2 separate regions of the Homo sapiens genome follow, and region 2 is linked to region 1. A link means that fine-mapping ties the variant in region 1 to the expression of a gene that starts in the linked region. Tissue or cell type: spleen. Region 1 holds a variant in brackets; the other region holds the start of a gene. All regions are shown on one strand. Distances are between the middles of the regions.

Evidence for each region. PIP is the estimated chance that this variant, and not a neighbour inherited with it, causes the effect.
Region 2: GPRC5D-AS1 starts here. The variant in region 1 is fine-mapped to the expression of GPRC5D-AS1 in spleen (GTEx, PIP 0.97).

The regions. Positions count from the first base shown.
Region 1 is chr12:13,854,983-13,862,982 of GRCh38, reverse strand. All of the region lies in intron 3 of GRIN2B (glutamate ionotropic receptor NMDA type subunit 2B), which reads left to right. Among named protein-coding and RNA genes, the nearest start is that of GRIN2B, 120 kb to the left of the region's middle. The variant G/A (reference allele first, on the strand shown) is at 4,355.
Region 2 is chr12:12,923,324-12,931,469 of GRCh38, reverse strand. It overlaps GPRC5D-AS1 (GPRC5D and HEBP1 antisense RNA 1), which reads right to left and starts at 3,744. Exons shown (of 3, transcript NR_149067.1): 1 at 3,667-3,744.

The DNA.
Region 1 (8,000 bases):
AGAATAGTTTCTAAAAGGTAAGCAGCAAGAGGGAAAAGAAGAAAGAAAAAGATCCAGTAATGGAGATCCTGGAAAGTTGGAGGCTCAGCCCCAGGCGTTCGATGCTGAATGGGTGGTGGCAGGAGCTACCTGGAGAGAGAGTGCCAGCAGCAAACTTCCCAGCAGCCATGCAGAGGAATGTTTGGGGGCTTAACAGATTTGCATAAAGGCCAATAAAAAGAGTCCCCAAATCTCAGAGAAAAAAGCCTTTGGGACAAATTTCAAAGATAAAACACCTCAAAACTAAGGCCAGGTTTTTTTTTTGTTTTGTTTTGTTTTTTTAATAGAAGTTTATTTTTAAGTACCATGACCATATTTTACAAACATAGAATGGGGACACACAGTTGGACAACTATTAATCAACAACAGGGGAATAGGACAAAAAACATTTGAAAGTGGAACTGATGCAGTAAATCTAAGACATGTAGCTTGGCCACACTGAAGGCTCATAGTAATCGTCTGAAGGATGATCAATAAGCCTTCTATTTTGTTCTCCCCTTCTCGGAGACAGGTAATTGTCAGTCTGTTTTAACTTAAGTTTTTGTTGTTAGTTTATTTCCAATAAAACCCACTTATTAAGTGCTCTTGTGGATGATTGCATTACAGGGATAAAGTTTGTATTCAAGAAGTTTTTGATGCTGGAAGGACAGCATTCTTCTGAAGACTTTTGACAACAGCACAGACACAGTTCAGCAGTTCAGCACCTCGTCAAATAGCATGTGCTCACTTTTTTGCATATGCTAATTAATCAGTAAGAACATTAATTAGCACTCTGCTTTCCCAAAGAGGAAATGAGCTTTATATTATGGTGGAAAGAAGCACGGGGGCTAGCTGAGTAGGGCTATTAAAAAATCAGAATTTAGAGTCCAAGCTGGATTCGGGCATCACTTCCTAAATGTTAGAATCAGGACAAGTCACCAATCCCTGACTCTCAACGTTTGTTTCCTTGCCTGTATAATGGGGATACTAATATGTTGATTACAGGGTTGTCGAGGATTAAATGAGGTGATACATGGCAAGTGCTTCACTGAAGTGTCCAGCCTAACATTCAGCAGGTGAAGCTGAAGGCCATGTGGAGCAGTTTGAAGGGAGTGAGAGTGTATCATGATGCAGGAAAAGAATGAGAATCGAAAAGCAGCATGGACCATTGTAGAAAAAACTCTAAATTGGAGACCACCCAAGAAGGGCATATGGTTGAAAGGTGAAAATCTGGGGGAAGGCTCTGAAGTGTGAGGTGGGAGTCTTGGTCTCACCCCACCAGGGAAGCTGAGGCTCACAAGTAGTATGGAAGCCTGCTGCAGCCACACGGGGTCCCTTAAAGAAAATCTCTAACCTGGAAAGAACTGCTAGGTGCTTGTAACAGAGACTGTTTCGAATAGTAATGGAGAATGTTTAAAAATGTATGAGGTGCTTTTTGGCAGTTCCCCACCTGAGTATAAAGAGCCTATTTTATTTTGCCTTGTTATAATTGCTTTTATTCTCCCTGAGATCCTGGATTTAAGATGCCCATCTGAATCCAAATAATGAACTGAAGCTAGATGTATTTCCATTTATTTCTAGGAGGTTTTTCTACTGATTGTCTGAAATCTTCCCTGGGTTTTCAGATTTTAGCTTAGAAAGGTTAAGTAACTAATCCAGGATATCACAGCCCACTATTAGCAATGGGACTAGAATTCAAATCTCAGGAATACCTGTTTTGAAACCTATGCTTTCTATTATACAATTCTGCATCATAAGACACTGAACTAAGAATTATACATCCCTGAGTTTTAGTCTCCATTCTGATGAGCTTTGAAAATGTGGACAAACACATTAGTTATACTACATGATACTCAGTTTATAGTTTATGAGATATAAATTTTGTGTTCTGCCCTATACACCTTACATTTTGAAGATAAAATGAAATAAAATATATGGAAGATTTTAGGGCAGTACCGTGGCAAACAGACACTTTAGGTGAGGGAAATAAGGAGTAGTGATAGGGAATGACAGAGTCAATGACAACTGTTTTGTCCTTGGCATTAGGACTAATGAAAATGGCTTGAGCAGAAGGTAGGAAGGAAAATAGAAAGGTAGAAGTTACAGTAGGAGCAGGCAAAAGGATTCAAGATCCAACTTTAATGCTCCAAGAATGGGGAAGAAAAGGGTATGCTGAGTAAAGGGTCAGGATCTGGAAATAGACATGTTGATCAGGGTGTAGCATGGTAGCTAAAACGTGCATCACATTCTGGATCTTATTCTTCCTTAGATGACATGCAAAAATATTCTTACTGTGGAGTCTATTGCTATGATTCTTTCCTTTCTAAATTGCTTCTTTGGGGGCCAGGCACGGTGGCTCATGCCTGTAATCCCAGCACTTTGGAGGCGGAGGCAGGCAGATCACCCTAAGTAAGGAGTTCGAGACCATTCTGGCCAACATGGTGAAACCCCGTGTCTATTAAAAATACAAAAATTGGGCGTGGTGACGCACACCTGTAATCACAGCTACTTGGGAGGTTGATGTAGGAGAATTGCTTGAACCTGGGAGATGGAGGTTGCAGTGAGCCGAGATTGCACCACTGCACTCCAGCCTGAGTGACAGAGCGAGACTCTGTCTCAAAAATAAAATAAAATAAATAATAAATTGCTTCTTTGGGAATGGATGCTTTCAATAGCACTTTTCATTTTCTGTACTGAGAGCCACATTTTGGAATCTAATTGGGGATAGGAAGATGGCCCTACTCTTCTTTGGCTTCATCCTCTGGCCCTCTTCCCCTATCCTCTACCCCCACTTGCTTAATGACAGTGGGTTTGGAGAGAGTAGATGGGCTGGCAGTGGTGTGTGACACTGGGAGTAGACTATTGCCTTCCCTTGGCTCATATGGATTTGCATATCCAACATAATCTTGAAACCAAGATGGCTACATGTTACTCATGCCTTACCCTACGCTTCTTCACTAATTTCTGGTGTCTGTTAGATTGTTACCTTGCTTTTAGTTGTCTGTGATATAATATTCCTCGGGACAGAATACTTTGGGAGAAAACTGTAATGTTATGGCATTTCTTGGATGAAGGGTATTAAGACATAGAGGTAGGAAAAGTGAGAGGAAAAAAACTAACATAATATGTCAATTTTGAACCAGGCATGATGTTAATGAGCATTTTAATTCTTATGCAATCCCATGAGGGAAGTAGTAGTATTTCTTCTTTCTTGATGGGGAAACTAAATCAGAGAGCGTTTATGTATGTTGGCCAAAGTCACACATCTACAACAATAGTGGGACTGAAATCTGAATTCAGACATGCTTGACTTTAAGACTTTTTCCCAGTGCATACGATGAGGGAGTAAGAAAAAAAAGCCAGGACAAAATTACCTGGAGTTCAGTTTCTTCTCTCCAATTTTCCCTACTTGAACTATATTTTGGGGAAAGATGGGTAGGCAGTGCTCTCTAAGGCACTGGAAACTTTGTAGTGATGTAGCTCTGTCTGGCTGGCTCTTTCCACCTGCTTCTGTGAAATGTGTTTCTTGTTGGCCAGCACATCCTGTCTTTAAAAATTGGAGCTAGGATTTTCTTTAGGAGCAGTGTTAATGCTTGTAACAATTGAAGCCCAGAAATTGCTTCGACATTCATAGAAATACAGGCACTTGGTGCTGGAAAGTAACACACCAGCCATCACTTGTCATACATTTTCCAGGGACGTGATGGTGTCTAAAAGAAGGTACCAGCACAAGGAGAGAATGCAGACTTTGGAGTCAATGGGCTTGAGCTCTATTCATTCTCAGCCATGTGACCTTAGTTGGACTCTTCAGACTCTCTGAGCCTCAAAATCTCCTTCTGTAAAGTGAAAACAAAAATAACACCCAGCTTATAAAGGGTAGCAAGCCTTATGACGCAATGTACCCAGTGCATGGTAGACAGTTGGTGCTTAGTATATGCCATCTTGCATTCTCAAAAACCAGACTTGTCCTAAATCACTTGAGGAAAATGGATTCTAATTTTTCCTATTAACAGAAATAGAAGATTTGGGGATGTTAACCTGCTTCCATTTAGACATGGTGGATAAACAACAGCTCAGTAGGTTCCACCTCTTTGGTGATGCAATTACTGATATTGACTTGATCAGAACTTATCAGGATTTTCAAAGCAGAGACATAAAGTGATTTCAACAAACTGATACACATAGGATATAAGCATTAAAGACAAGTCAAGATCATTTTCTAAAAACATAACGGAATAAAATAGTGTTTGAATCAGAGTCACTCATAGATTTGGAAGTGTTAATATGTTAAAAAAAAGTGAATTATTACATGAAGAAAATATTCGTGGTACTAGGT[G/A]GGAAGTAGTAAAATGTTACAGATACAAGAAAACATAAATTTACTAAATATTGCCAGCCAATTTTTACATCACATTGATATTGCTGAAAAAAACTCCCTGAATTATGAGTTCTATACAAAGAGTATATTTTTAGTCCCCTTTCTGAGACTTCTGTGATTCTTTTTGTCTTACTGTTAGATCTACATTTTATTCAAAATTGTATTTTGATTCTGTAGTTTAAAGGTCTAGCATGCAGGAGAGTAACATTAAAGGTGGTTATTTTTATTCTACCTTTCTGAGTACAATAAAGGTTTATTGCTATAATTCTATTTTACACGGACAAAGAAGATCTAATTATTGTAAGTTATTTTGAGGTTATGATGAGAAAGACTGACACTGATCATTTATTTTTTGTCAAACTCTGAGTTAGTCACTTTATATGAGCTAGTCATCTTATATATTTTATCTCATTTAATGTTTTCATTGAATTTAGAAGGCACATATTTTATCTTTATTTTAGAGACAAGGAAACTATAGATCAGAGAGGTTAACTATGTTGTCCAATACCTTTAGGTAGTGATTTGCTCACCGTAGCTTAAACAAATGAGTCTGTGGGTGTCTCAGAACAAAGAGTCTAGAGACAGAGGCTGCTGGGGGTGGTTCACTGGCTCAGTGATGTCAGTACTGACATCTGGGGTTCGCCTGGCATTTTGTCATGGTTGGAAGGTGGCTGCTCCAGCGTTAGTCATCCATCATGCTCATACTTAACGAAGGAAGAAGAAGTGGGTTGGTATTGGATTAGAAGAAGTCTTCCCCACATCCTTGATTTCATGAGCCCAAACAATGTCACATGGGCAACTCTGTGGACGTTGCAAGTCTCTCTGGTGGAGGTGACAAGGGGGGAAAGGAGTGGGAATGGCTTTGGGGCTAGTCAACAGACAGTGTAGTCAACAGACAGTGTAGTACACTGTGTCTCAAAGGAAGTGACATCCTGGGAATTCAACCAATGCCTGTAGGAATCAAAGCCCAAACATGGTGCATTTCCCTTGTCTCACGCCAAACCCTCTTTTGTGTCTTTAGTCTAGTCTTCTCCAGAATTAGGATCTTGGTTCATCAGTTATTTTCTTTTTTTCTTAACTTTCAACTTATTCCTCTCTACTGGTATCTTCCCTTTTAGGGATTCTTAGAAGATGTTTGGGAATGTATGAGGGTGATTTTTGGATGCCATAATAACTGGTGTGTGTGAGAGTGTGTGTGTGTGTGTGTGTGTGTGTGTATGCACGCGTGCGCCACAGGCACTGAGAACTTAGAGAACCGGCATGTTAAGTGGCCTGTAATATATGTGTTAGTGTCCCACTGTCAAGAATAGTCTTACCCAAAATATCAACTATCACTGTGGCCCATAAATATGCTCAAATCACTCTCATCTTATTAAACAAACATGAAAGCTTTCCTTGATGCTCATTCTCCCTCCTTGTCTCCTTCTTTTCACAGTTCAGCTCCTTAAAGGGTAGTCTGAAATTGCCTTTTGCACTTCCTCATCTCTCACTTCTCCAAGGTGCCAAATCCAATGGACTTTTCAAGTTGTTCTTGACCTTCTGCAGCACTGAATACTGTTGACCCTTTTAGTGCTAGTCACAAAAATTATGATGACAAGAGTAATTAGATTTGTCACAGATTTGGTGACAGCAGCAATGAGAATGTATAGAATTTAGAACATGGGTGGGTCATATAGGTGGAAATGTCTAGTAAGCACTTGGATTTGGGCCTGGAGGTAGAGTGAATGATTTGGGCTGGACATGTAGCTATAAGCCTTATTTGCGGGGACAGGATAGCTGAAACCATGAGAGTGGATGAGATGGCTCAGAGTGAACAGTGGAAAGGGGAGAGAAGTGGGTCAAGGGCAGAACCCTGGGTGCACCACCATTTGAGGGATGGCCAGGGGAGGTGCAAGGTGCAGATGATAAAGGATCTGAGACAAAATTATCAGAGAGATAAGAAAAGAACAAGAAGAGCAAGGAAGGAGAAGCATTATAGAAACCAAGAGTTCTAAAAAGGGAGTTATTTCTCAGTCTGGAAATCAACTTAGAGCCCTCCCTTCCCCTCCGACAGTAACGGGACCTTGATAGTTCCACCTTCGTAGGTAGCTCCAATTTGTCCCCTCAACTCCATACACGCTGCAGTGACCCAAGGGCTGGCACTCATTCTCTCTTGTCTGTGCTGCCACATGGAAGCTTACCTATGATTCTTTGGAAACTCAGATCTATTATTACTTTTTTGCTTAAAACCGCCCTGGCTTCCTTCAGCTTAGAATGAAGCGTCCTCTTTAATCTGGTCCCAGGCCACCTCTCCAGGATTTCTCTTAACCTCCCTGCCCTTGAGCAGCAATGTCAAGCCACACTAAATTATTTACAGCTCCCCGAATGGTTCTGCCTGTTTTACATCTCTGTGCTTTTGTCTTTGCCACCTCCTCTTCTTAGAATGTCCTCTTCCTTGCCCACCCCTTGTCCACTTTATAGGAGAATTCATGGCGTTTCTTCTGTGCACACTTTCCTGACTCCCACCTTCACAGAATTTGGCATTTCTTTTCTTGTGCGTCACCTGTGCCCTCTTCGTGCTTTTATTGTAACCTGTCTTGTTAACACATCTGTCTCTCTTGCTGTAGAGTAGGCTCATTGTGGGCCAGGGCTATGCTTTAGTAATTTCGTCTTCCTAGCACATAGTGTCAGGTGCATAGTGACAGCTAACTTTGATTAAACAATTAACACTCATTAAACTGTGCACTCTATACACACTGCACTGGGTAGCATGGTGATCCTTCAAAAGATAGGTCCATGTCTTAACCCTTGGAACCATAAATGTGACCTTATTTGGATAAAGGGTCTTTGCAGATGTAATTAACTTAAAGATGTCATGATGAGATCATCTTGAATTATTTGGGTGGGCCCTAAATTCAATGACAAATGTCCTTATAAGACACAGAAGAGGAGAAGACACAGACACAGAGGAGAAGCCCATATAAAGAGAGATAGAGGTGGTAGTTGTTGAGCTACAAGCTAGGAAAGCCGCCAGAAACTGGAAGAGGCAAGGAAGGAATCTCCCCTAGAGCCTTAGAGTGTGAGACTCCCGACACCTTGATTTTAGGTTTCTGGCCTTCAGAACTGTGAGAGAATACATTTCTGTTGTTTTAAGCCCCCGAGTCTTCTGCAGCCTTAGGAAATGAATACACACACCACAGTTAAGTGAGGGAGTTCTGGAATCTCACTGCCTTGCTGTTTCCTGGTTCTATCACCACTTACTGTGTGACCTTTAGAAAACTCCTTCACTTCTCTGAGCCTTAGTTTCCTCATCTATAAAATAGTGATACAAATAGAGCTTTTGCTCTCTCACTCTCTGTCTCTCTTTTCTCTCTTTTGTCTCTTTTCTTTCTTTCAACAGGGTCTCATTCTGTCACCCAGCCTGGAGTGCAGTGGCATGATCTCGGCTCACTGAAGCCTTTGCCTCCCAGGTTCAAGTGATTCTGCTGCCTCAGCCTCCTGAGTAGCTGGGATTACAGGCATGCACCACCACGCCAGGCAATTTTTTTTTTTTTTTTTTTTCAGTAGAGATGGGGTTTCACCATGTTGGCCAGGCAGGTCTCAAACTCTTGACCTCAGGTGGTCCACC
Region 2 (8,146 bases), 930 kb after region 1:
TTTTACTAAGATGCTAAGACTCTCACCTAATAAACTGCATTTGGGCCACTATCACTCTGCTGCTTTTTACAGCATAATCTGAGCCACCTCTATAACATAAAACAGACACATACCGCATGAGAATCTTTACTACTGGCAGAGATGTCACTGCATGATATTCAAAAAAGACTGTGCTTTCGGTTTTTAACTGCAGTTGTTACTGCTGTGTCCTGCTGTTGACAACTCATTTTTCTAGACACCAAAACAACTACTAGGGGTGGTTATTTAGAAAATTAGGAAAATCTGTCAACTTTATGGAACGTGCCACTGTGGTAGTCATAACTGTTGTTTTCCAAATATTTCCAAACTCTCTTGTCTTCTGGGTACACTGCCAGTTTGCACTTTTGCACCTTTTGAGGTTGTGGGGGATGATGACACTAATTCTGCCTTACAAGTTGAAAGCAGAAATGATGTCACTTCCAAGTCCCAAGCAATTAATTGTTGATGCAAGACCCTTGTGGGCTTTTTCCTTCCTCCCATGGTGGTAAGCAATATTCCACATAGCAACTGCTGCATTCATCTGGGTTCCATGATGAACATGCAGCGTGTGCAAGAAATAAAGCTTTGTTGCTTTATGCCACTGAGACTTGGGGCTGTTTGTTATGTCAGCTAACCCAGCCCATCCTGACTGACATAGACACTGAACCAGTTGTTTGGTATCCTGAGGTAAAGCAAGGAGTTACTTGTCTGAACATTTTACTTTACCATCTGTTATTCTAGTGTTCTTCAAAGACATTCTTAGATCAAAGAAGAACTGCCCTGCTCTTGACTGATGCATGCCAGACTGCTCTGCCAGCCATGTGGCTCCGTGCTTGTCCACATAATTACAATTCACAGAGATAGCTTGCTTCCATCATAAAAACATGTAGAAGGTCACCCTGTGTGCAGCAGAGGGCTGGTCTAAGGTGGAGCCCTCGAAGTGTGGCCTCCAGACCTGGGCCTGGTCGGCTGATGGTTTGTCACTAGTCTGCCACAAAGTAAGTATAGAACTCAAGAGTAAGCACTTAGAAACTTCTGTCTCCTAGACAAAAAGCAATTCTGTCTAAGAGACTGAGAGCAAAATAGACTTCACAGAGGAGGTCAAAAGCTCAAGCTCTGTCTTACACGAGGTTGATGGGGGGTAGAAATTCCCTGAGCAGATGATGTTGGGAATGGTACTCAGAACAGCCACACACAGGGAGACTGTGTGTGAGTTAGAAACATGTGCCCCCTCTGAGTGGATGAATTTGAAAATGTGCCCCCACCCCAAAGGATGTGACCTCAGGCCAGCATCCAGGGCTTGGCCAGCAGTGAGACTGGATTCCAACCCCACCCCAACCATCTCAGCTGGGTGCCTTTGAGCAGTACAAAAAACCCAAACTAGTCAACTGACAGCATTGGACCAGGTATGCAGGTCAGAAAAGTCTGTCTGAAGGTGAGGCTGCAAGGAAAACCAAGGCTCATTCAGCCAGCTGCAAGCCCTCCTTATGCTGGAGCAGAGATAGACAAAGAGAGAAGCAACGGGAGAGGTTGGCTCTGCCCCCACAGGGCTTCCATCCCGAAAGGAGGAATCTAGACATGGTCTGTGTGTGAAGAGCACTGGAAGGAGAGGCCTGATCATCAGTGAGCACTGCTGTGCTAGGCCCTCTTGGAGCCCGAGACAGAAGGAAACGTGTGTGTCCCTATATGCGCTTATCAAAATATCTTCCCATGCTTTGAACCAAGTGGAAAAACGTCATTTAAAAGTCTCCAATCAAAAAATTAAGCCTCAGCCGGGCACGATGGCTCACGCCTATAATCCCAGCACTTTGGGAGGCGGAGGCAGGTGGATCACTTGAGGTCAGAAGTTTGAGACCAGCTGGGTCAATGTGGTGAAACCCCATCTCTACTAAAAATACAAAAAAATTAGTCAGGTGTGGTGGCATACACCTGTAATCCCAGATACTAGGGAGGCTGAGGCAGGAGAATCGCTTAAACCTGGGAGGCAGAGGTTGCAGTGAGCCAAGATCGCACCATTGCATTCAAGCCTGGGCAACAGAGCAAGACTCCATCTAAAAAAAATAAAAATAAGAAATTATATATATATATATATATATATATATATATAAAGCCTCCTTCCCCCCATCTCCCTTTCTTCTCTCTTTTAAAACAAAAATAAAAAGGCCAGGTACAGTGGTTCACACTTGTAATCCCAACACTTTTGGAGGCCAAGGCAGGATGATTTGAGCCCAGGAGTTCAAGACCAGCCTGGGCAACACAGCAAGACCCCCATCTCTACAAAAAAAAAAAAAAATCTAATAAAAATATCCAAGAGGCTGGGCATGGTGGCTCATGCCTGAAATCCCAGCACTTTAGGACGTTAAGACGGAAGGATTGCTTGAATCCAGGAGTTCGAGATCAGCCTGGGCAACATAGCAAGGCACCGTCTCTACTAAAAATCAAAAAAATTAGCTGGCCGTGGTGGCACGTACCTGTGAACCCAGCTACTCAGGCAGCTGAGGCAGGAGGATTGCTTGAGCCCAGGAGGTTAAGACTGCAGTGAGCTGTGATTGCACCGCTGCACTCCAGCCTGGCAACAAAGCAAGACCCTGTCTCAAATATTTTAATAAATTTTTTAGAAAGTACCCAAGAATGGTGGCACACACCCATAGTTCCAACTACTCGGGAGGCTGAGGTGGGAGAATTGATGGGGCTTGAGAGGTTGAGGCAACAGTGGGCCATGATGGTGCCACTGCACTTTAGCCTGGGCAACAGAGCAAGATGCTGTCTCAAAAAAAATTTTTTAAGCCCTCCCTTTCTTTCATCTTTCTTCCCTCTCAAAATACAAACAAACTATATATATGTGTGTGTGTGTGTGTGTATGTACATATATACATATATACATATATGTGTGTATATACACACATATACATATATGTATATATGTATATATTATATATACACATATATGTGTATATGTGTATATATGTATATATTATATATATACACATATATGTGTATATGTGTATATATGTATATATTATATATATACACATATGTGTATGTGTATATATGTATATATTATATATATACACATATATGTGTATGTGTATATATGTATATATTATATATATACACATATATGTGTATGTGTATATATGTATATATGTATATATATACACATGTATGTGTGTATATATGTATATATGTATATATATACACATGTATGTGTGTATATATGTATATATACACATATATGTGTATATATGTATATACACATATATGTGTATATATATATTGCCCAATTTGTTTGTACCCCATTGTCAACCCTCACAGATCCATGGCAGGGACACAGCAGCCACATAAGCCCAGGATCCAAAGCCTGATTGGAAACGGCTCCTCTCTTGCAGTAACGCAAGGTCGTAAAACAAACCAAACAGCCTGCTTTTATAAAATTTTGATATGTTGTTTATCATGGGCTTTTTGGTATTGATTTTGTTTTAAAAAATATTGTGGTAAGGCAGGAGTGACTGAGGCAAGTATTAGAGCAGGAATGAAAGTTTATTAAAAAGTTTTAGAGCAGGAATGAAAGGAAGTAAAGTACACTTGGAAGAGGCCAAGCGGGCGACTTGAGAGATCACCCACTGGACAGTCTGACCTTTGACTTACGGTTTTATACGCTGGCATGCTTCCGGAGTCTTGTGTTCCTTCTCCCCTGACTCTTCCCTTGGTGTAGGCTGTCCACACTTGCGCAGTGGCCTGCCAGCACCTGGGAGGGGAGCATGCGCAGTGTGTGGCCTGCCAGCACCTGGGAGGGGAGCATGCGCAGTGTGTGGCCTGCCAGCACCTGGGAGGGGAGCATGCGCAGTGTGTGGCCTGCCGGCACCTGGGAGGGGAGCATGCGCAGTGTGTGGCCTGCCAGCGCCTGGGAGGGGAGCATGCGCAGTGTGTTTGTACGCATGCAGGAGTTGTACACATGCTCACGTGAGGCGTTCTTCCCTTATCAGTCGAATGTCCCTAGAAGGTCATATACCAGTTAAACTCTGGCATTCTGCCTGTTAGTGCTCATGCTTGAGTACACTCGCCCAACTGCTAAGATCTTACCGGGAAGCTGCTTATCACCCGTTTCAGGTGTTTTCTATCTACTGGGAGCCTGTCTTTCCCTAGCACCGGCTGCGACCAATTATTATTTTAGAGCGACAGACTAACAGCCGCCTGACCATCACCTGATGGTCACCTGAGGTTCCTGCTATTGGAACAGACCCTCTCCTGCCCTGCTCATACCTGACAGCTACCTACTGTAACACACCTAGGCAGATAAAGATGAGATTGTGGAGTTCCAACAGAAGCAGACATTAGGGAATGAGCTGAAAGGTGGAGGTGGAAGTTGTTCAGGGAGATGAGATTGCGCGGGGTACGTAAGAAGAGAGCCTCAGTAGGCTTCGCGGTGGAGCAGGCTGTCCCATCTCCAGCGAAGCTCCCCCCATGCCTCTGTCTCCATATGGAGTTCCACTGTTAACCCTGGGCATCTCCAGCAAGATCCCTACGGGGAGAGGGAACGCATCTGAGTACTGTTTGCAGAACCACACACGACAGCTCTGAATGAATAAGCCAAGACAACACCCCGAGATTCTTCCTGCGGATTTGGGTTCCCAGGCCGGGAAGGAGCTGTTGGAGCCTGCATGGAAGATTAGTGGATCTGCAAAAAGACAATGTGGATGACTGGCCGACGCCTTGTCCCAACCCTGTCCAAGCAGAAGAATCGCCGGGATACTTGCTCTGGATACAAATTCTTGGACCCTGACTCAGACCAACTAAATCAGAACCTCTAGGAGGCCTCCAGACACTGCATTTTTAACAAATTCCCATGTGATTTTTAACGCAGTATAAGTTTAGGAAGCGCTGCTCTGTTGACAAGGAAAGGCTCTGGTCTGGTTTGTAGCAGACTGTCCAGGCTTTCCCAATTTGGTCCAAAAAGGCAGAAAGTGATTGGCTTGAGAGGGCAGAATCAATGGAAAAAGTTTATGAATTCCTGCCCCTGGGAACATTCGTCTTTCACTTTTCATCTTCTTCCCCACCCCCACCTCTTTGGGGTATAGTCTTCCCCATGCCCCAGTTCCACATCTGCTCTGACCTGGGGTTCCCACCCAGCCTCCATCCAGAACACGCTCACCCTGTTTTTGTAAGAGAAAACATTGTCAAAATCAGCTTATGCCTGAAAATTCAAGAAGATAAATTCCTCCTGAGCCCATTTGCTGGCATTCTCATCTGTTTCCAGTTTGGTGTATATCATCTGAAGGGTCCTTGTTCATCCATTTTGGTTCAAGTCAGTTTAGAAAAGAAATGCACTTTACACTGGGCACAGTGACTCACGCCTGTAATCCCAGCACTTTGGGAGGCTGAGGCGGGTGGATCACTTGAGGTCAGGAGTTTGAGACCAGCCTAGCCAACGTGGTGAAACCCCATCTCTACTAAAAATACAAAATTAGCCAGGCATGGTGGTGGGCACCTGAAGCTACTTGAAAAGCTGAGGCGGGAGAATCACTTGAACCCAGGAGGTGGAGGTTGCAGTCAGCCAAGATCATGCCACTGCACCTCAGCCTGCGTAACAGAGTGAAACTTCATCTCAAAAAAAATTTAAAAAAGAAAGAAAAGAAATGCGTTTGGAACACAATGCAATCGATCTTTGGAGAAAATCCATCTAAAATGCTTCTCTTATTGTTTTTGGGGGTTTTTTTTGTTTTGTTTTGCTTTGGGGTGTGCTTTTCTCTTTTCTCATATTTAAAGTTTGTTCTTGTGTGGTTCTCCTAGGAAACAGCACTTTCCCAAGCTTGACAAAGAAAAGCCTCAGGGAAATAAATTGGGATGTGATGAAATGTATTCAGCCCAAGAAGTAAAAAATTCCTTTCCTTTCTTCCAAGCCTCGGGCTTGTAAGTTGCTTTTATCACACTGGATTTAAGTGTTCTTATATGGAAACACACACAAAAATCTGATGGTTGATCAGCTGAAATTCATCAAAATTATTTGAAGACAAATTGGCATTCAAGACACCAGAATAGACAAGAGAAGAACCTGAGGGCTGTGTTCTCTGAGTGAAAGGACATCATTCTAATTAGCCTGTGACAAAAGAAAAAAAAATACCCTTCTCCCAAAAAGTTTATTCATTTTACCCATGTGTACAGGCACTGTCCTAGGCTCAGGGAATACTGAGAAAAACAGAACAAATTTCTGTCCTTCTAAAGCCTATATAATAGAGAAAAACACACAAACCAACAAATAAATCTAAATTCGAAATTTCAGTACCCTGAAGACTTACCACTATGGGAGCCCAGCATTAAACTGCCTGCTCTAGCCGGGCACGGTGGCTCACGCCTGTAATCCCAGCACTTTGGGAGGCTGAAGTGAGCAGATCAAGAGTTGGAGATCAGCCTGGCCAACATAGTGAAACCCCGTCTCTACTAAAAATACAAAATTAGCCGGGCATGGTGTACAGCCAAGTAGCTGTAATCCCAGCTACTCGGGAGGCTGAGGCAAGAGAATCTCTTGAACCTGGGAGGTGGAGGTTGCAGTGAGCTGAGATCGCGCCACTGCACTCCAGCCTGGGCAATAGAGAGTTCGTTTCAAAAAATAATAATAAAAAAAATTAAAAACTGCCTGCTTATATCTGGGCCAGCTTGTAGTCCCAGCTACTTGGGAGGCCGAGGAGGGATGACTGCTCGATCCCAGGAGTTCAAGATCAGCCTGGGCAACATAGTGAGAACCCATCTCTACAAAAGATAAAAGGTAAATAAAAATGAAAGATCGTGAAAATCAAGGTCACAGGGATGGATCACTCACCGTGAGTTAGGGACAGTTGGTGACATGCACTGCTTTTCAGCCACACAATCGGCAACCCTGTTTTGCTACTGCCTTGAATGGAAATGTGTTTTATTTGGCATGACAGTGTGCACATACACATACGGTGATAGGAGGCAAGGGCACTGGTTTCATCTCACGTGTAGAAATGACTCTCCATACCTTAGGCTTACGGCCAATTGGTGTATACAGGAGTGGACATGGATGTGGGTGGATGTGTGGGTGTGTCTGTACACACAGCCACCAGCCGGTACCCCACACATACCAGGAATTTCTGAGATTCTCACAGACTACTGAAGAAGATGTCTGGGGAGCATGAAAGCTTCTCCACAGCCAGCCATGGTGACTGACACCTGTAATCTCAGCACTTTGGGAGGCCAAGGCAGAAGGACTGCTTGAGCTTGGGAGTTCAAGACCAGCCTGGGCAACATAGAGAGAGCCCCCCCACCCCCGCCATCTCTATAAAAAATCAAAAAAAGCTAGGTGTGATGGTGCACACCTGTAGTCCAAGTTACTCAGAAGCCTAGGGCAGGTAGATTGCCCAGCCTGGGTGACAGGGCAAGACAAGAAAGAAAAGAAAGAAAAAGAAGAAAGAAAGAAAGAAAGAAAGAAAGAAAGAAAGAAAGAAAGAAAGAAAGAAAGAAAGAAAGAAAGAAAGAAAGAAAAAGAAAGAAGGAAGGAAGGAAGGAAGGAAGGAAGGAAGGAAGGAAGGAAGGAAGGAAAGGAAGGAAGGAAGGAAGGAAGGAAGGAGGGAGGGAAGAAAGAAAAGGAAGGAAGGAAGGAAGGAAGGAAGGAAGGAAGGAAGGAAAGAAAAGAAAAGAAAGAAAGAGAAAGAGAGAAAGAGAGAGAAAGAAAGAGAGAAAGAGAGAAAGAAAGAGAGAAAGAGAGAAAGAAAAGGAAAGAGAAGAGAGGCCGGGCACGGTGGCTCATGCCTGTAATCCCAGCACTTTGGGAGGCCGAGGCGGGCGGATCACAAGGTCAGGAGATTGGGACCAAGCTCGCTAATGCGGTGAAACCCCATCTGTACTAAAAGTACCAAAAGTTAGCCGGGCGTGGTGGCAGGCGCCTGTAGTCCCAGCTACTTGGGAGGCTGAGGCGGGAGAATGGTGTGAACCCAGGAGGCGGAGCTTGCAGTGAGCCCAGATCGCGCCACTGCACTCCAGCCTGGGCAACAAAGCGAGACTCCGTCAAGAAAGAAAAGAAAAGAGAAGAAAAGAAGGAGGGAGGGAGGGAGGGAAGGAAGGAAGGAGGGAGGGAGGGAAGGAGGGAAGGAAGGAAGGAAGGAAACCTCTC